Linked DNA regions of Homo sapiens: region 1 is linked to region 2. The links come from fine-mapping of genetic effects on gene expression. A gene starts in region 2. The other region holds a variant in brackets. All regions are shown on one strand. Distances are from middle to middle. Region 1 overlaps NOS3 (nitric oxide synthase 3). Region 2 holds the start of ASIC3 (acid sensing ion channel subunit 3).

What was found.
Region 1: its variant is fine-mapped to the expression of ASIC3 in whole blood (TOPMed, PIP above 0.99).

What each region holds. Positions count from the first base shown.
Region 1 is chr7:150,996,596-151,004,595 of GRCh38, forward strand. NOS3 (nitric oxide synthase 3) reads left to right here. Exons shown (of 27, transcript NM_000603.5): 5 at 168-330; 6 at 1,762-1,853; 7 at 1,944-2,085; 8 at 2,351-2,490; 9 at 2,595-2,769; 10 at 3,903-4,004; 11 at 4,636-4,830; 12 at 4,949-5,022; 13 at 5,226-5,370; 14 at 5,605-5,709. Among named protein-coding and RNA genes, the nearest start is that of NOS3, 9.6 kb to the left of the region's middle. RefSeq lists a silencer at 3,631-3,793 and enhancers at 4,647-5,846, 5,124-5,624. The variant G/A (reference allele first, on the strand shown) is at 4,666.
Region 2 is chr7:151,042,427-151,054,829 of GRCh38, forward strand. It overlaps ASIC3 (acid sensing ion channel subunit 3), which reads left to right and starts at 6,105. Exons shown (of 11, transcript NM_004769.4): 1 at 6,105-6,993; 2 at 7,680-7,830; 3 at 8,055-8,182; 4 at 8,332-8,527; 5 at 8,613-8,669; 6 at 8,746-8,893; 7 at 9,384-9,475; 8 at 9,557-9,636; 9 at 9,740-9,811; 10 at 9,990-10,048; 11 at 10,148-10,328. The coding sequence starts at 6,460. The coding sequence ends at 10,226. ABCB8 (ATP binding cassette subfamily B member 8) reads left to right here. Exons shown (of 16, transcript NM_007188.5): 15 at 1,545-1,795; 16 at 2,783-5,356. The coding sequence ends at 2,923. CDK5 (cyclin dependent kinase 5) reads right to left here. Exons shown (of 12, transcript NM_004935.4): 10 at 11,979-12,039; 11 at 11,786-11,866; 12 at 11,389-11,669. The coding sequence ends at 11,583. RefSeq lists enhancers at 7,617-8,255, 9,111-9,689, 11,123-11,623 and a silencer at 8,688-8,797.

The DNA of each region.
Region 1 (8,000 bases), 48 kb before region 2:
GCCCCAGAAACCCCGTGACGACCTTCCCATGACCCCCTCCCTTCCCAGATCCTAACACCACGTGGGCCCCTCCCGCCCTCCCCCAGCACTTGCACAAAGCCTGGAGGAGGGCCTCCCTGTCCCACACAACTTCCTGCTTGTCCCCTTCCCACCCCTCTCCTCCCCAGGAGCGGCTCCCAGGCCCACGAACAGCGGCTTCAAGAGGTGGAAGCCGAGGTGGCAGCCACAGGCACCTACCAGCTTAGGGAGAGCGAGCTGGTGTTCGGGGCTAAGCAGGCCTGGCGCAACGCTCCCCGCTGCGTGGGCCGGATCCAGTGGGGGAAGCTGCAGGTGCGGCTGGCCAGCGACTGAGAGACCCGGGCGCTACCAAAAGGGGAGCGGGGTGGCGGGGCAGTTCCTAAGGCTTCCCGGGGGCTGGGAGGTCCCAAACTGTGGGGGAGATCCTTGCCTTTTCCCTTAGAGACTGGAAAGGTAGGGGGACTGCCCCACCCTCAGCACCCAGGGGAACCTCAGCCCAGTAGTGAAGACCTGGTTATCAGGCCCTATGGTAGTGCCTTGGCTGGAGGAGGGGAAAGAAGTCTAGACCTGCTGCAGGGGTGAGGAAGTCTAGACCTGCTGCAGGGGTGAGGAAGTCTAGACCTGCTGCAGGGGTGAGGAAGTCTAGACCTGCTGCGGGGGTGAGGAAGTCTAGACCTGCTGCGGGGGTGAGGACAGCTGAGCGGAGCTTCCCTGGGCGGTGCTGTCAGTAGCAGGAGCAGCCTCCTGGAAAAGCCCTGGCTGCTGCTTCTCCCCCAAGAGAGAAGGCTTCTCCCGCCAGGCCAGTCCAGTGCAGCCCCTCACCCACACCCACTGCTACCCCAGTTCCCCTGCTTCGGCCCGCACCCTCCCTCACACCCCAGCCCACAGACTCGGGGCTGGCCTTAGTTACTGGAACGCCTGTGACCACAGCACTAAGAGAAGCAAGCTGCCCCATGGGGGACTTGGTCCCATGGCCTTGGCCTCCTTCACCATCACTGGCCGCCAAAGAGTTTGAAATAAAGCCACGTGCCCAGTGAATCCCAAAGGAACCTCAACTAAAATAAAAACAATCCTATCTGACACTTGCCTGACCCTCTAAGTCATTCAAAGCTTTAGCTCAACTTCGATCCATCTGAGCTGCCATAGTGGACCCCACTCAGAGCTGCGTCCCTCCCTTGACCCCAGGTTGGTCCCTGCCACTCCCCTGCCCCTGTCACTGACACATGTTTCCTCCTCCCTCAGGCAGGAGTGGGACCTCCCAGCCTCCTCCTGGGGCCTCCACTCAGAATGTCAGGATGAGCAGGGTCCTAGGAGGCCTCTGGTGCAGCCTTCCCTTCCCACCATCCATGTGCTCAAAGAGAATCACCCGTCCTTTCTTGAATGCCATGGATCATGGGGGATTTGCTGCCCACACTCCTAGGCGGCCTCTTAGACATCCGTTGGTGCCTAACCCAAGCATCAGTTTGGCAGAGGCCGAGTCCCTCCTCTGTACTGGATACCAAGTCAGCTTCCATAGGGATGGGGAGACACCTGGCCCAGGGAGGAGATGAGAAGCAGCCCGGATGGTGCTACATATGTCAGAGAGCAGGGCAGGAAGGGATCAGTGTGGCTGCCAATGGTCAGGAGGGCGCCATGGAGTGAACCATGGCCCCTGCCTCCTCACCAGCAGCTCCTCTGGAGCTGATACTCAAGACCCCCCGTCTCTCTCCTCACCCTCCTCTCCCGCTGCCTCGGCTGGCTCAGGTGTTCGATGCCCGGGACTGCAGGTCTGCACAGGAAATGTTCACCTACATCTGCAACCACATCAAGTATGCCACCAACCGGGGCAACCTTCGGTGAGTGCCCCCCACCATGCCAGGCCCCAGCCTTCTTCCCCAAGGCAGGGAAGGCGGGGCTCTGACCAGCTCTTTCCCCATGCGTGCCAGCTCGGCCATCACAGTGTTCCCGCAGCGCTGCCCTGGCCGAGGAGACTTCCGAATCTGGAACAGCCAGCTGGTGCGCTACGCGGGCTACCGGCAGCAGGATGGCTCTGTGCGGGGGGACCCAGCCAACGTGGAGATCACCGAGGTGGGCACCGAGGGCCACCCATGAGGGTGTCCCCAAGGTGGAGAATGAGGAAACCAGTGGGAGAAGGCTCGGGGGATCCAGGCAGGAAGAGGGGAGCCTCGGTGAGATAAAGGATGAAAAACACCAAAGGAGGGGTGCCTGGGTGGTCACGGAGACCCAGCCAATGAGGGACCCTGGAGATGAAGGCAGGAGACAGTGGATGGAGGGGTCCCTGAGGAGGGCATGAGGCTCAGCCCCAGAACCCCCTCTGGCCCACTCCCCACAGCTCTGCATTCAGCACGGCTGGACCCCAGGAAACGGTCGCTTCGACGTGCTGCCCCTGCTGCTGCAGGCCCCAGATGATCCCCCAGAACTCTTCCTTCTGCCCCCCGAGCTGGTCCTTGAGGTGCCCCTGGAGCACCCCACGTGAGCACCAAAGGGATTGACTGGGTGGGATGGAGGGGGCCATCCCTGAGCCTCTCAAGAAGGGCCTGCAAGGGGGTGCTGATCCCACACCCCAACACCCCCAGGCTGGAGTGGTTTGCAGCCCTGGGCCTGCGCTGGTACGCCCTCCCGGCAGTGTCCAACATGCTGCTGGAAATTGGGGGCCTGGAGTTCCCCGCAGCCCCCTTCAGTGGCTGGTACATGAGCACTGAGATCGGCACGAGGAACCTGTGTGACCCTCACCGCTACAACATCCTGGAGGTGAGGTGCGGGATGGGGCTCGGGCACCGAATGCACCTGTCCAAGGCAGGAGTCTGGCTCTCACTCCATCCCCAAAATGCCAGCCACGGGGACAATCAGAGCAGGTCCAGGGTTGCCTCCTAAATGGGAACTGAGGACAAGCTCTAGAACCACTGAAGCAAAGGGGTAGGGGGTGGCAGGGGTGTGTGTGGGGGTGTGAGTGGGTGAGTGTGAGAGTGTGGGTTTCTGGGGTGTGCAGTGGGTGAGAGTGTGGGCTTGTGGGGTGTGTAGTGGGTGTGAGACTGTGGGTTTGTAGGGGTGGGTGAGTGTGGGTGTGTGGGGGTAGGTGGGTGTGGGTTTGTGGGTGTGTATAGGCAGTGACTGTGAGACTGTGGGTTTGTGGGGGTAGGTGACTGTGGGTTTGTGGGGTGTGTAGGGGTGAGTGTGTGTGGGTTTGTAGGGGTAGGCGAGTGTGGGTTTGTGGGGTGTGTAGGGGTGAGTGTGTGTGAGTTTGTAGGGGTAGGCGAGTGTGGGTTTGTGGGGTGTGTAGGGGTGAGTGTGTGTGAGTTTGTAGGGGTAGGTGAGTGTGGGTTTGTGGGGTGTGTAGGGGGTGTGTGTGGGCTTGTAGGGGTAGGCGAGTGTGGGTTTGTGGGGTGTGTAGGGGCGAGTGTGAGAGTGTAGGTATGTGGGTGTGAGTGTGGATGTGTGTAGGCGGTGAGTGTGAAATTGTGGGTTTGTGGGGGTGGGTGGGTGTGAGTGTGTGGGTTTGTGGGTGGGTGTGGGTGTGAGTGGGTGGGTGAGGGGGGCATGGGGATGGGTGTGAACATGTAGTTGTTCTTTCAGGCATAGGACCCATAGCTCTAGAGCTTTCATCAGATTCTCAAAGGGGACCTTGACTCGGCAAAGGTTAAGACCCATTTTAGAGATGAGAAATTAAAGCCTGGAGCTGAGGAGCGACTGGCCCAAAGTCCCTCTCTGCTCTGAGGTGCCTTCGCAGGCAAAAACCTGAACCAGCCCCCTAGGCAGCCAGGCCTCCCAATGGACACCACTCACCTCACTCCTTCCAGCCATGTACGGGAAACAGAGATAGTCTCCCCACCCCACCCCCGTGATCACCTCTGTCCCTACCGATGCCACACACCCTTCTGCCCCAGGATGTGGCTGTCTGCATGGACCTGGATACCCGGACCACCTCGTCCCTGTGGAAAGACAAGGCAGCAGTGGAAATCAACGTGGCCGTGCTGCACAGTTACCAGGTGCAGAGGCCCAGACTGGCCAGGAAGGCAAAGGGTTTGCATACGGGGGCAGCAGGGGCGGGGGATGGAGGAGAGGCAGCCATTTAGAAACTAGGGCAGGATTTGGACAGGCAGAAGAAGTTCCGTAGTCCCAGTGCCATGGCGCACACTGGCCTGCGGTTCGGGGACAGGGCAGGTACTATTCCAGGCGCTGTCATCTGGTGGCTTACTGTGTGCCAGGGACCTTGCTGTTTACTGCATGCCCAGTCATGCTGATTCTCAGGGCATATTGGGTATTGCAGTTTGTGGGACCCGCTGGATCCTGGAAACAAATACCAGGATCAAGGGCACACCAGGAGTCGTAGTTTGAGGAAGCCGGGGCCTGCTGAGAATTTCTGTGGGCTATTTGGTTTGGGGACCAGGCATGCAGATGCTGGAGATTAGAGCTGCTTGTTGCATGTTGAACCTGCAGCATGACCATGCATGATGTGGTTTGGGGTGAGGGTGACATTGTGGTTTGAGGGGACACAGGGTGTGTTAGATATGGGGTAATCGAGGGCACATGTGGTTTGGGGTGACCGGAGTGGTGGAGGAAGAATGGGCGAGGTCTGTGGGTCTGGTTTGAGCCTCTCCCCCTCTCTCTCCCTTCCAGCTAGCCAAAGTCACCATCGTGGACCACCAC[G/A]CCGCCACGGCCTCTTTCATGAAGCACCTGGAGAATGAGCAGAAGGCCAGGGGGGGCTGCCCTGCAGACTGGGCCTGGATCGTGCCCCCCATCTCGGGCAGCCTCACTCCTGTTTTCCATCAGGAGATGGTCAACTATTTCCTGTCCCCGGCCTTCCGCTACCAGGTGCCCACCCTAACTGGCTCTGCCAGCCTGGGCCCAGCTCTAATTCTAAGCAGCCCCTGGGGACCTCTAACCTTTCCTTTTCTTTACCTCCCCTCCCAACCCCATCATCTCTCTGCAGCCAGACCCCTGGAAGGGGAGTGCCGCCAAGGGCACCGGCATCACCAGGAAGAAGACCTTTAAAGAAGTGGCCAAGTGGGTCCCCTGGGAGCCCCGCTCTCCCACACACACCCTGGGGGCCCCACTCTCCCCCACACACCCTGGGGGACCCTGCCCCAGCAGTGTTCTGGGCCTACCACTCAGTATCCCAAAACCCTGTTGTGAGGGGGTTGGACCCTTGCCTGGGGAGGCCCTGCCTCTGTGCACCCAGGACACCCTCACACCTTCCTCTCCCGCAGCGCCGTGAAGATCTCCGCCTCGCTCATGGGCACGGTGATGGCGAAGCGAGTGAAGGCGACAATCCTGTATGGCTCCGAGACCGGCCGGGCCCAGAGCTACGCACAGCAGCTGGGGAGACTCTTCCGGAAGGCTTTTGATCCCCGGGTAGGGCTGAGCCCAGGGGAGCAGGGAGCTAGAAAGAGGGGGCTCTATCAGCATCTTCAGGGGTGCCCTGGAGGACAGGAAGTGTTACAAGTCAGGACTCATGAGGAACCCGGAACCACAGGTGTTCAGAGATCAAGTTGGGGCCTGAATCTTGCACTGCCAGGGAGGCCAGAGTGAGGAGGGCAGGGCCTCCGGGGGCCACAGCACCCAGGACATCTGTCTTCCCACCCACAGGTCCTGTGTATGGATGAGTATGACGTGGTGTCCCTCGAACACGAGACGCTGGTGCTGGTGGTAACCAGCACATTTGGGAATGGGGATCCCCCGGAGAATGGAGAGGTGAGAACTTCCAGGAAAGGGGCTGCTGGGAATGAGGAGAGACTCAGAATTGGAGTGACTGGGCAGGAACCTCTGCCCAACACACACACACACACACACACACACACACACACACACACACACACACACACACACACACACACACACACGCCAGGATGGAAAGGGAGATGCTAAGAGACCCCTGGAGCCTGAAACCCCACACAAGCTACGCTCCCAGCCCACCCATGTGGCTGCCTCCCTGCAAGCACATTTGCTTAACTGCGCGTCCCCAAGTCATTTCCATTATCAGTGCAAGTTTTTAATACAAGGAAGGCACATCCTGGCTGACCAAGAGGTTAGACTGTGCTCGGGCACTGACAAGAAAAACAGGGATACGTCACTGAGGGCGGCTTCTAGGATGCGGGTAATGTTTCTTAATGGGATACTGGTTACACAGGTGTGTTCAGTTTGTAAAAATCCACAGAGCTGTACATTTACAACATGTGCAACACTATTCCAGCATTTTATTTTATTTGTTTTATTTATTTTGAGAACCTATTTACGTTGCCCAGGCTGGCCTTGAACTCCTAGCCTCAAGAGATCCTCCTGCCGCAGGCTCCTTTTTCAAAAGAAGAAATTGAGCGCTGTTTAGATGCCAACATAGATTAAATAACTTCACTTTTTAAAAAGAAACACAAAGCTAGAGTACCATCATTGAATTCCTTCTCTTGCAAGCTTAGGTATCTCTGAGGTGCCCCAGGCTAGGCTCATTTCTGAGTCTTACCTGCTCCAGCTTCTAGGTGTTAAAGGCCTTATTAGCACTAAGTACTTCCTCAGTACTCTTTTTTCTTTTTTCCTTTGAGACAGGGTCTCACTTTGTGGCCCAGGCTGGAGTGCAGTAGTACAATCACGGCTCACTGCAGCCTCAACCTCCTAGACTCAAGCAATCCTCCCACTTCAACCTCCCAAGTAGTTGGGACTACAGGCGCATGCCATGATGCCTAGCTAATTTTTGTATTTTTTATAGAGATGGGGTTTCGCCATGTTGCCCAGGCTGGTCTCTAACTCCTGGGTTCAAGCAATCCACCTGCCTCGGCCTCCCAAAGTGCTGCGATTATAGACGTGAGCCACTGCACCTGGCCCTCAGTATCTTAAGCAAGTTGGAATCTCGTGAAACCCTTTTTGCTGCCTTAGTGTCCGTTTCAGCCCTCATTCTGACCTACCTTTTCAAGAAAAATAGCACCAGCAATTGACTTTTTTTTAGCATAAAGGTGTATAGACACCCATATAACCTACAGCCTTCACAAGGCATAGCACATTTTCACCACCCTGGAAAGTTCCCTCATCAGTTCCTCACGTGAATCCCTTCCCAGTCTGTCTCCCTGCCAGAAGTGTCTGTCACCACAGAATAGTTTCGCCTGCTCTAGAACGGCACCTAGATGGAAGCACGCAGTGTTGCGGCGTCTCCTGCTGAGGCTGTTTTTGAGGCGCACTCGTGTTGCTGCGTGACTCAGTATTTCACTCATTCTGCTGCTGAGTGCCGTTCATTGTGTGAATATCCCCAGTTTGTTTACCCATTCTCTTGTTGGTGACACTTGGGCTGTTTCCAGGTCGGGGCTATTATGAATAAACCTGTTATGAACATTCTTGTACCCGGCTTTTGTGGGCTTATGTTTTTATTTCTCTTGGGTAAATACCTAGGAGTAGAATTGGTAGGTCATAGGGTAGATGCATGTTTAATCTTTCACTTTTTTAAAAAATAAAACTGCCAGGCCAGGCGCGGTGGCTCACGCCTGTGATCCCAGCACTTTGGGAGGCCCAGGTGGGTGGATCACTTGAGGTCAGAAGCTCAAGACCAGCCTGGCCAACATGGCAAAACCCTGTCTCTACTAAAAATACAAAAATTAGCTGGGCATGGTGGCGCACGCCTATAGTCCTAGCTACTCAGGAGGCTAGGCGGGAGAATTGCTTGAACCTGGGAGGTGGAGGTTGCAGTGAGCCGAGATCACGCCACTGCACTCCAGCCTGGGTGACAGAGCAAGAATTCTACTTAAAATAAAATACAAATAAATAAAATAAAACTGTCAAACAGCAAAGCAAATTAAACTGCCCTTTAACATCTGTGCAGTTCAATGTATGTTAATTTTATCCCAAATTTTTAACAAATCTAGGAATACAGCTCACAGAAAATGGGGTATATTCACTAAAAATAAGGAATATTTATAGCAAATTTGTTTGTAATACCCCACACTGGAAACAATTCAAATGACCATCGACAAATACTGATAAATTGTGGTATATTCAAGTGCCAT
Region 2 (12,403 bases):
AGTCCTCACCGAGTCTAAAAGGCCGCCACTTCCCCAGACTGAACAGAAGAAATGGGGGGCTGCCTCCTCTCCACCATCCATCCCCCTCTGGCTCCTGTTTCCTTCCTGTGCTTTTCATCTCTAAAGTCGTTTCTCATTAGAATCGGGGTGACTGGATGGGCCCCAGGAGAGGGCTCTGGTGGTTCTGAACTAGGAACACGCAGCCTGGCACTGCAGGGCGTGCACCTTGCAGCTTGACGTGCGGAGCTCCCAGGTCTTTTTCCAGCCTTCGGGGCCATGTTTCTCGGCCAGTGTCTTGGCTCTGTTGCACAGTGTTTCAGCACTTCTCAGGATACAGGGATACCTGGGCTTCTCAACTCTGGTCAGTCTGAGTCCAGCCTTCTGAGCTGTGGGGCCAGTGTCCCCAGCCCAGCCATCGTGTTCTAGATGGCTCCTCCAGCCGTGTTGATACACTGTCCAGATGCCAGCTGTCCTCACTGGGTGCTCTCCCACATCTCTTTTGGGTGGCACTTTCCTTGTGTCTCTGATCCTAGTACTTTCTGCTCATTTGGGCCTTCTTGGGGCTGCGTCCTTACTGACCTGTCACCCTGCTGTCACCTTGAGGTTCTTTTTGGCTCCCAGGCTGCCACTTGTGCTGTCCTCTGTGGGCTTCGAATCCCACCTCCCTGGAGTCACTGGACCCCAGAGCCCATGTTTGGGTGCTGGATGTTCCCCACAGCCACAGAGACCCGGGAGGCTGGGAAGGTGGCTTGGAACTGCAGGCACAGGGCAGGGTGTGGGTCATCCTGGCCTGAGGCACTGCCATGGCTGGGGAGGGGCATTTGGCAACTCCCTTGGAGTGCACCAAGCCCTGCTGGCGGTGTCACACCACCCTCAGAGGCAGGGCAAGTGTGCACAGTGGCTGAGGGACCCAGAGGTGGGATGAGCCAGTGCAGGGGGAACCCAGAGGAGGAGTGTACACAGTGTGGGGTGGGGGGTCAGAGGCAGGAGGAGGGTGCACAGTGCGGGGTGGGGGTCAGAGACAGGACTAGGGTGCACAGTGCGGGGTGGAGGGTCAGAGACAGGACTAGGGTGCACAGTGTGGGGTGGAGGGTCAGAGACAGGACTAGGGTGCACAGTGCGGGGTGGAGGGTCAGAGACAGGACTAGGGTGCACAGTGTGGGGTGGAGGGTCAGAGGCAGGACTAGGGTGCACAGTGCAAGGTGGAGGGTCAGAGGCAGGACGAGCGTACACAGTGCGGGGTAGAGGGTCAGAGGCAGGACGAGGGTGCACAGTGCGGGGTGGGGGGTCAGAGGCAGGAGGAGGGTGCACAGTGCGGGGTGGGGGTCAGAGGCAGGAGGAGGGTGCACGGTGTGGGGTGGGGGGTCAGAGGCAGGAGGAGGATGCACAGTGCGGGGTGGGGGTCAGAGGCAGGAGGAGGGTGCACAGTGCTGAGAGGGGCACTTAGAGGATCTTGATGGGCGTTCAGGAAGGACCCTGTGCCCCTTTGTGGGCCACCCTCAAGTGCACAGCTTCAGGCTCCTGCCCTGCCCCTCCCTTCCCAGGTGAACGGGGCACTACCCTGTCTGGGGGCCAGAAGCAGCGCCTGGCCATCGCCCGAGCCCTTATCAAGCAGCCCACGGTGCTGATACTGGATGAAGCTACCAGCGCGCTGGATGCAGAGTCCGAGCGGGTTGTACAGGAGGCCCTGGACCGGGCCAGTGCAGGCCGCACGGTGCTGGTAATTGCCCACCGGCTCAGCACTGTCCGTGGGGCCCACTGCATTGTCGTCATGGCCGATGGCCGTGTCTGGGAGGTTAGTTGTCCTGGGGGCGTGGATCAGTGGGTTGAGGATGGCTTCATCACGGACAGTGGCACAATGCTGCAATGAGTTATATGAAGTTGTGGCCTGGCCCCAGGGCCTTGGGGGCTATATTCTGGAAGCAGCGTCCCATATAGAGTCAGGAGTTCCTGCATTCAGCCAAGCCCTGGCCTCTCAGGCCCTCAGTTTCTTCTTCTGTCCCCTGGGATAGTATAATTGCACCATCAGCTCCCAGGATCAAAAGGAAAAGTACTAGCCGGGTGCCTGTAATCCCAGCACTTTGGGAAGCCAAGGCAGAAGGATCTCTTGAGGCTAGCCTGGGCAGCATAGCGGGACCCTGTCTCTACAAAATACCAAAAAAAAAAAATTAGCCGGATGTGGTGGCATGCACCTGTACTCCCAGCTACTCTGGAGGCGGAGGCGGGAGGATTACTTGAGCCCCAGAGGTTGAGGCTGCAGTGAACAATGATTGTGCCATTGCGCTCCAGCCTGGCATCAGAATGAGACCCTGTCTCAAAAAACAAAAAGGAAACATACTCAGAGTATGGTGCTGGGAGCAAGGAGCAGGGCTAGCTGCCCAGGGTATCAGGTGCAGGAGAAGCAGCGCCAAGGAACCTGTGCAGGGAGTCAGGAGTAGGACCCCAGAGGCCGTGTGGCGTTGGCTAACAGCCACTCATTCAAGCCAAGGCTGAGGGGCTCGTGCAGGGAGACGGATCCTGAGTTGGAGCCTTGGGCTCTGTAAGGGGGACAGAGGGAATCATGTTCTTCCAAAATTCAGCTAAGTAAGGAAGTGGCAGTAACTAATGCAGCATGCCAGTGGCGGTTCCTTTCAGATTGGGCATTGGTTTCAGAGTGTCCCCAGAAGGGACACCGGCCTAAGTGACCATGGGCCCAATGGCTGATAGAGAGGCTCAGCTCTCTGAGGGTTCTGAAGCCTGCATGCCTTGGAGCAACCATCCGCCCTTCCCTCCCATCTTCCAGGCTGGGACACATGAAGAGCTCCTGAAGAAAGGCGGGCTATACGCCGAGCTCATCCGGAGGCAGGCCCTGGATGCCCCGAGGACAGCGGCCCCACCGCCCAAAAAGCCAGAAGGCCCCAGGAGCCACCAGCACAAGTCCTGAGAAGGGCCCCCTGAGGTGTGGTCGCTGCCAAGCATCAGTGTTAGGGCTGGGGCTCAGCCTGGGGGAGCCTACTGGGGACTGAGCCCCCAGGAGGGCCAGCATGTGGAGAGTCGCTGCGGCTGCTCCTGCTCACAATAAAGCCGGGGCCGAGCAGCTGGCAGGGGAGGCCAATCCCTCCCTCCCCTCCCCAGTCCTGCCGGCTGCCTCCCTCCCACCAGAGTCTGCCAGAGTCATTGGGCTGCAATGGGCAGAGACAGAGTTCCACGAGACACCTCCACTCTATTCTCCCTTTGCCCAGACCCCTCCAGACCTCTCAAGAGACGTTCTGGCCAGTCTCCCTGCCCCACCCAGCAGCTTCAAATTGGCCAGGCCTACAGTAGCTCCAGGGAATTTTTAAAAATCAGGGTCTGGAAGTGGGCCTGGGAATTCAAACCTAGGCTCTTCCCACACCCTTGCTAGGACCTCACTTCCCTAGACTGGCGACTGACTCCCTCTCCTGTGTCCCCACTCCCTCCATGGGAGAAGGAGCCTATCCCCTGGCTCACCCCGGGACCCACAGTCCCCATCTTCCAAACAACCTCCCTCCTTTCTCCCTGCACAGTGAACACAGTCCTGATTTCTAGATTTCACCTCCCCTCCCCACCCACAAGGGACACAGGCCTAACAGGGCCCAACACTTGGGTCAGGGTAGGAGGGACGGGGCCACAATGGCCAGTTCCCACGAGAAGCGCCAGCCTGCCTGGCTGTCTTCCACCGGCCCTGCCCTGTGTGCCTGGCGTCTTTCACCCACTGAGATTGTGAACCAGCCTCCATCTACACCAAGAACACCCAGCACTGAAGGAGATGGGAGGGGCTGATGCCCACCTGGAGCTCTCTGCTTCCTGCCCACAGTGCTGACGAGTACAGAGCTAAATGGAGCAGCTACTGCAGAATCCAGTACAGAATCGGTCCAGGAGGGTGCGGCTGTGGACAGGCCAGCATCCCCAGCAGGTTCTGGGAGGCGCACCTTGAAAGGGGAAGGCAGACATCCTGAGTGATGGGCGCCTGTGGCCCTGAGACTGTGGATGAGGGGGCTAGGCTCCAGCTGGCTTCTGAGGGGCCTGGAAAGGCACACAAGTAGGTCCTTGGCTGAACTGGTGCCCCAGCAGGACCTCGTGTCCCTGCACTGCTGCAGATGCATCAGCCCTCCCCATGTTGGTGCCGCTGTCACTTCCTACTGGGATCCTTCCCCTATCCAGCCACATCCAGGCTGTGGGACTACACGGTGCCCTGTTCCCCTGGGCAGGAGAAGAGGTGGTACCTGCAATGCACCTTCACAGCCAGGCAAGCATTCTGGATTTACCCTGTGTAAAGAAGGGTGGTACCCTCTTTCAGGGGTGTGATACAGTGCATTGATGGAGCAGCTGGTGCTGCTGGGAGGCCAGCCTGGAAGAGGCAGCAGTGGCTCAAGTTTGCGTGCAGGAGCCAGAGTGGGACCCACGGGCTCTTGTGGGTGTGGTTTAGAACTAGATGGTGCTTTGGGGACAAGCCATCCAAAAACCCCAGGCCCACATCCACCCTGATTTGATATCCCACTTCCTGACAGATCAGAGGCTGTGTCTTTAAGCAGTGGAGGTCCAGGAGCAGAGCCTGGGGCTGGTTCACAGCTAAACCCCTCCTTAGGGCAGCCCAGAGTAGGGCCTCAGCTGGCAAGTCCACAAGCCCTGCTGGGGCCCTGCTTGTTGGCCTGACCCCTCCCTCACCAGGCAGCCAGCCAAGGTGGTTCCTGCTTCACCCACTCAGTCATCAGCCTCAGGCTGCCCAAAATGCCTCTGACACCAGATTTATATCTTCTGGGCGGCTTCTTTAAATCCAGCCCTTCACCCGCCCCCTAGAGAAGCAGTGAAACCCCTTGGCTAGTCCAGCTGGAAGAGCTAGACCGCAGGAGCCGCGCCGTCTTCCTAACCTCGCCTCGGCCTTCGCTCCACAGTGGAGAGTGGGAGCCTAGCTGTGCTTGATGCTGAATGCCTGTTTTGAGAGTGTGAGTGGGATCATCTACAGTAAATACTTGCAAAGCATGGCACTGTGGCTCTGGGGAGCTGGTACGCCTGTGCTGTAACCATGGTACTCAGTCCTTCCAAAGTGTTTATTAATCAAGCACCTGTCATGTGCCATTGAGCCCACGATGGGGAATGAGGACAGTCCCTGCCCCCATGAAGCTTGTGTCCTGTTGGGAGGACAGACAGGTGGCCCAGCAGTTGCAGCATGGTGTGTGCACACGTTTGGCTGGTGGAACCATGTTTCTACCACTCATGGTCAAAAAAAGCCCACCAAAGTCCTGGGAGTTCACATCTGTGTGATGATACGGCAACATTGTTTGTAATGGAAAGACTGGACACCCCCAGTGCCCATCAGTGGGGGAGTCATTAAATAAACTATGGTATGTGCACATAATGGGTGGTATGCAGCCCTTTGGAAAAATGTAGGTTTTCCAGGTCCTGGATATAGCAGCGTAAGATGGGAAATCACAGAATACCCATGTTGTGCCTGAGATGGCAGGTGGGGTACCCGTGGTACCCGGGAGGGTGGCAGGTGGGGCACCCATGTTCTACCTGGGGTGGCAGGTGAGCCCATAACCATTGTAGAGGCCAACATCCTCAGAGGCCTGAGTGTGGGGAGGTAGGCTTTGACTCCCTAGGGAGAGAGGGACACTTAGGAAACAGACGGGCCCTGGAAGTGGGACATGAAGAGTGCCCTGGCCATCCAGTGTAGGCTGAGATGCTAGGGGCACAGAAAGAAGAGATCTGCTGATGCCAGCCTTCCAACCATTTCCCAGCTTGGCCAAGAGCCAGCTCTGGTATTCGTGAAGGAACAGATCCTGGGTGAAGCTAGAGGGAAGGCCGCAGAGGCAAAAGGAGAGAGGAGCTAGGCCAGGGGTCAGCGACTGACCCTCGCGGCCAGTGTACAGGGGTTGCAACTGGGAGCCTAGGGGGCCCCAAGGCATCTCCAGGCCCAATCTACCTCTGGGCTTTTCTCAAGCTCTCCCTAGGATTACTGCGGTTTCCTCCTGGCGCCTCTCGTCTTGGACAGCCATGCCCCCCTCCATGCTGCACTAATGGCTCAGCCTGGGGCCCTAGGGACCTCTCCTACCCCCCAGACTGCTCTGTCGGCCCCCTTTCCCCCCTACTGCTGAAACCCAATCCTCTGCAGCAGCGCCGGCTCAGCACCGCCGGCTCAGCACCGCTCCGCAGCCCCTGCCTGCCACGGTCAGCTACGTCCCACCTGGTCTGCTGCGGAGTCCCCAGCCCAGTGCCTAGCCCAGTGGAGCCACCGCCTGTTCCTCGGGAAGGAACAGTGGGACCTGACCGGCCAGATCACCTCCTCCAATCCTGCCAGGCTAGTGCCTCCCTGCCTTCCAACCTTGGCTGTCTCCCACCCTCTCTTCTCCTCTCCTTGCCTGGCCTCCTGAATCCTATCTTAGCCTCCTTAGCCCCCTGACTGACTCTCTCTCGCTTCTTCCAAGCCTCTGTAGCTGGTTCCGCTCCTGGGTTCTGGCCATGAAGCCCACCTCAGGCCCAGAGGAGGCCCGGCGGCCAGCCTCGGACATCCGCGTGTTCGCCAGCAACTGCTCGATGCACGGGCTGGGCCACGTCTTCGGGCCAGGCAGCCTGAGCCTGCGCCGGGGGATGTGGGCAGCGGCCGTGGTCCTGTCAGTGGCCACCTTCCTCTACCAGGTGGCTGAGAGGGTGCGCTACTACAGGGAGTTCCACCACCAGACTGCCCTGGATGAGCGAGAAAGCCACCGGCTCATCTTCCCGGCTGTCACCCTGTGCAACATCAACCCACTGCGCCGCTCGCGCCTAACGCCCAACGACCTGCACTGGGCTGGGTCTGCGCTGCTGGGCCTGGATCCCGCAGAGCACGCCGCCTTCCTGCGCGCCCTGGGCCGGCCCCCTGCACCGCCCGGCTTCATGCCCAGTCCCACCTTTGACATGGCGCAACTCTATGCCCGTGCTGGGCACTCCCTGGATGACATGCTGCTGGACTGTCGCTTCCGTGGCCAACCTTGTGGGCCTGAGAACTTCACCACGGTGAGCTGACCTCCCTACCTATCCTGCCAGGGACCCAGAGAGCCGACCAGTCCCTGCCCAGCACCCACAATTCCCTAGCCAGCACAGGCTCCCCCAAAGCCAGGGGACCTCTTCCTTCCTACCAGCCATGGACTCCCCACCCCCCAGTGCCACTCCGTGCAGCCCAGGAAGCTGTCCTCCTTGGGGCTTTCTCTGTCTCCCAGCCCGAGGGGAGCATGTGAGGCCACACTGACCCCGGCTGGCCCTAGGCCTGAGGTCTGGCCCAGGGAGGCCCTGCTCCTGGGGCTGGGGGTCCTCCATGGTGGGACCATTCTGGGGCAGAAGACCCCTATCTCTGCCAGGAGGTGGGGGGGGCTTGCTTTCCCTCTGCCTTTTCAACATACTGCCAGCCCCGGAGGACAGCCACAGGGGCCCATTTCCTTTTCCTGCAGTTCCCAGAGAAACACAGAAAAACCTGTAGGCTGTGCCCTGGGCTTTGGTGGGGATTGGCGGGGTGGAGGAGCTGAGTTGATGGGCTCCCAAGAGCGTCCTGCAACATGTGCCCACTGGAGCGTGGGGCTGGGGGCATTGAGATGCGGGCTTCAGTATTCAAAGAAGAGACGCAAACATACCATGAGGTGGGGAGAGGTCCCATGACCATGTGCCTGCCTGGGGGAGATGGCCATCACCCTGTCTGCCCGCCCCAGATCTTCACCCGGATGGGAAAGTGCTACACATTTAACTCTGGCGCTGATGGGGCAGAGCTGCTCACCACTACTAGGGGTGGCATGGGCAATGGGCTGGACATCATGCTGGACGTGCAGCAGGAGGAATATCTACCTGTGTGGAGGGACAATGGTAGGGAGCACACAAATGAGGCTGGGGGAGGGCACGGATGGAGTGCAAAAGGCTAGGGGAAGGAGAGGAGGAGAGGAGGTGTCAGGGTGTTCCCCCAGAACCTGTGAAAGGGGCTGGGCTGGCTCATCCCAGTCCTGGGGAGAGGGGCTGCAGTGAGAGGTCTTGTCTGGTTGGGCAGGAGACCTGACCACACAGGTCAGGCCTCACAGGTCCCTCCCCGACAGAGGAGACCCCGTTTGAGGTGGGGATCCGAGTGCAGATCCACAGCCAGGAGGAGCCGCCCATCATCGATCAGCTGGGCTTGGGGGTGTCCCCGGGCTACCAGACCTTTGTTTCTTGCCAGCAGCAGCAGGTACCCTTCCGTGTGCCTCCACACCTACTACTTCAAGCCCACACCACCTCAGACCCTAAACCCTCAGCTCCTCAGACCTGTCTAGGGGCCTCTCCCCAGCTGGCCTCTCACGCTCTCCGGGAAGCCTCCTTAACCCTGTCCCCCCACAGCTGAGCTTCCTGCCACCGCCCTGGGGCGATTGCAGTTCAGCATCTCTGAACCCCAACTATGAGCCAGAGCCCTCTGATCCCCTAGGCTCCCCCAGCCCCAGCCCCAGCCCTCCCTATACCCTTATGGGGTGTCGCCTGGCCTGCGAAACCCGCTACGTGGCTCGGAAGTGCGGCTGCCGAATGGTGTACATGCCAGGTGAGGGGCTGGGGTTTTCGTCCCATGGCGGGCAGGGCCCAGGGAGCTGAGGCTGCTTCTAAAGCCATCTCCCCGGTACCCGCAGGCGACGTGCCAGTGTGCAGCCCCCAGCAGTACAAGAACTGTGCCCACCCGGCCATAGGTAAGGGCGAGCCTCCCCCACCTCCCGTCCGCCCCGCTCCGCCCGCGGGCGTCTGACGCGGCCCGGTGGCCCGCAGATGCCATGCTTCGCAAGGACTCGTGCGCCTGCCCCAACCCGTGCGCCAGCACGCGCTACGCCAAGGAGCTCTCCATGGTGCGGATCCCGAGCCGCGCCGCCGCGCGCTTCCTGGCCCGGAAGCTCAACCGCAGCGAGGCCTACATCGCGTGAGCTGCGCGGGGCGGGCGGGCTCCTCCGAGCCGGGGGCTCCCGACGGGGCGGAACGGGGCAGGCCAGGCCGTAGCCCTAGTGCGCACAGCCCGGGCGGAGGCAGCCTCCGCAGCCTCACTGGCTCTGGGGCTCCGTGCTGGTTGCTTAATCTTTCTGGCCCCGGGGGATGCTGACGCCTCCTCCCAGGGGTCTGTTTTTTTTTCCTTTCCTTTTATTTTTTAATCTTTACTTTTAAAAAACAGAGACGGCGGGGGGCGGGGGAGGGGAGGGGAGGGGACTCGCTGTATTGCCCAGGCTGGTCTCAAACTCCTGGCCTCAAGATCCTCCCTCCTCATCCTCCCAAAGTGCAGGGAGTACAGGTGTGAGCCACCGTGCCCGGCCTCTCCCAGGGTTCTTGAAAGGAGTGGGAGAACCCACAGCTGCTTCTTGCCAGCAGTGGGCACCAGGCGGTGGCCAGCCCACATTTGAGGCCATTCTTGTCCTCAGGGAGAACGTGCTGGCCCTGGACATCTTCTTTGAGGCCCTCAACTATGAGACCGTGGAGCAGAAGAAGGCCTATGAGATGTCAGAGCTGCTTGGTGTGTGTGCAGGGCCCCCAGGGCTGGGGGGGTGTGGGCAGGCAGGTGGCTGTAAGTTGAAGGGTGACCCTGTCTCCACAGGTGACATTGGGGGCCAGATGGGGCTGTTCATCGGGGCCAGCCTGCTCACCATCCTCGAGATCCTAGACTACCTCTGTGAGGTGGGCCAGGGCCCCCACTGCAGGGGGTGGGAGGTGGGAATCAGGGCCCCTAGGATGAGGGGGAAGGTGTGCACTGGCCACCTCCCATCCTGCTTGCCTCCAGGTGTTCCGAGACAAGGTCCTGGGATATTTCTGGAACCGACAGCACTCCCAAAGGCACTCCAGCACCAATCTGGTAACAGCCCCTCTTCTGGAGCCCTTGCCTGCTCCAAGGGTGCTAGGGCCCACCCCTGAAGCCTAGACCACCATCCCGCCCCAGCTGAGGAGAAACAGGCAGGAGGGTGTGCAGTGACCTCGACTGGTCCCTGGGAGGAGGACCACTCCCCACCTCTGACCCTCTCGTCCTCACACAGCTTCAGGAAGGGCTGGGCAGCCATCGAACCCAAGTTCCCCACCTCAGCCTGGGCCCCAGGTAACACATAATGGCCCCCTAAAATCAAGGGAGGGCAGGGGCAGGCTCAGGACAGTGGGTGTGCCCGTTCCCACCCCAGCACTCTGCTCTGTTCCGAAGACCTCCCACCCCTCCCTGTGCCGTCACCAAGACTCTCTCCGCCTCCCACCGCACCTGCTACCTTGTCACACAGCTCTAGACCTGCTGTCTGTGTCCTCGGAGCCCCGCCCTGACATCCTGGACATGCCTAGCCTGCACGTAGCTTTTCCGTCTTCACCCCAAATAAAGTCCTAATGCATCAGCCTCAGCTGTTTCTCTTACAGGGCAGAGACTAGCCAAGCCAAGGTCAGCCCAACTTAGGCATTGGAAGTCTTCTGCCAGCCATCATCCAGCTGGACGTGGCTTCTGAAATGTGGAGCTGGGCCCTTGAACCCCCATGAATCTCTAGGGGAGAATGGTAGCAAGAGGTTATCAGTCATTTGCACCTCAGTGTGAGTGAGTTTAGCCGACTGACATCTTAGAGAGAAGGGAGGACAGGTATCCTCCAAGCCCGGGTTAGGTGTGAGGTGCAGAATCACAGTCAGCAATAAAGGTATAACTGGAAGAAAACTCTGCCCAGAGCTCAGCAAGAAGAGGCAGGGAGAAGACGGGGTGACTCCACTTTCAAGAACACCTGTGTCCTGCCTTACATCCTGACTCCTTTCCCACATTTGGGACCAAGTGCGGCACACAGCCTGTCTCCATACAAACAAGTTCTGCCTCCTCAGCCTCCCCACAAGAGCTAAAGGCCCCAGGCTTGAGACGGTGGGGGTGGGGGTGGGGGTAGGCGGAGCCCTCCCTTCCTCTTCCTGCCAGTAAGGACACACCAGGCCCCAGCCACAGGCCCAACTTCCCTCTCTTTCACTGGACCCCAAACATTGGGAAACTGACAAATAGGGAGTGGGAGGGGGTGTTCCTGATGGAACCATATCTTTGGGGCTCTCCTGTGCCAGCCTGCAGGCCTTGGTATGGGGGGGATGATGAGGGAAAGGACAAGAGGATCCACCTGAGATATGGAGAACCACAAGGAGAGGCCCAGCCCTTTCCTCTCCACCCTGGTGGGGAGCCCATCCTTGCTCCCCTCACTCTGAGGGACCACATCAGGCCCTCCTGGGCAGAGGAAGGGAGGGTGGGAGGAAGGGGTGTGCAGCGACAGTGCTGCCCTGCCCCAGGGGTGAGGGGTGAGGGTCATGGCCTCTTAAAGTAGAAGAGCAAGGTGCTGTCTTTGAGCCAGAAGCAGGATTGCGGCCGGCAGTAACAGACCAGAGACACCTCCAGCCCATGGGCCCTGTAGAGCCACTTGACCACCACATCAACCAGACTGTGGGAAAGGAGCCAATTTATGAAATTAAATAAAGTCCACAAAGGGAGTGAGAAATTCGGGCTCAGGCACCCCACCCCGGCTGGGCCCAGCACTGCTGGAGCACAGCGCACCAGGCACCCCCACTGTCTCACCCCTCTCAAGAGGGGGCTTAAATAGGCCAGGCCCCAGCCTGGAGGCCGGGGGTCCCGGGGCCTAGGGCGGACAGAAGTCGGAGAAGTAGGGGTGCTGCAGGGCCTCTTCTGCTGAGATACGCTGGACAGGGTTACACTTCAGAAGGTTCTGGAGATGGGGGAAAGGAGGTGGCAGGTTCAGGACAGGTCACTGCCCAGAGCCCTGCCTTCCTGTAGTCCCACTGGGCAAGTGTCCTGACCCACCCTCTACCCCTGGTCACCTACCTGCAGCAGATCCCTCCCTGTGGCATTGAGTTTGGGCACGACGTTCACCAGGGATGTTGTGGCCGGGTACATCGGATAGGGCTGTGGAGAGGCAGGGAGGGTCAGACTAGAGGTAGGGGGAGGGGGATGGAGGCGCTAGGAATGTGAAACGAGTGACCCTGATGAACCATGACCCCCACATTCCCCATCACACCTTATAGTCTGGCAGCTTGGTCATAGAGGGCCACTGCTCCTCGGTGGGCGTCCCCAGCAGTGTGTCCACGGAGTCAAGGATCACTTGGGAAAGGGCCACAGCTGCATCTTCAGGGGCAGGGTGAGGGCCTCTTCCCCTCCTGGGGAGGGATTCCTCATACCCACCGCCCACTTCTCACCCTCCCTTTACCCTCCGGCTTGAGCTTGACAGAAGCAGCCCCAGGCAGGTCACTCGCATATCCAGCCACGTTTCCCATGACAATCACCTAACCCACATGCTGCTGTCCTAGTCCTAATGAAACAGTCCTTGCCCTGCTCCCACAAAATGTGTCCTGTTCTCTTTGGCTCCTTCATCCTGGCATCCATCTCTCACCTGGAGGGACACCCTCTCGGCTTCACCCCTCAGGGCACGCTGCCTGTCTCCAA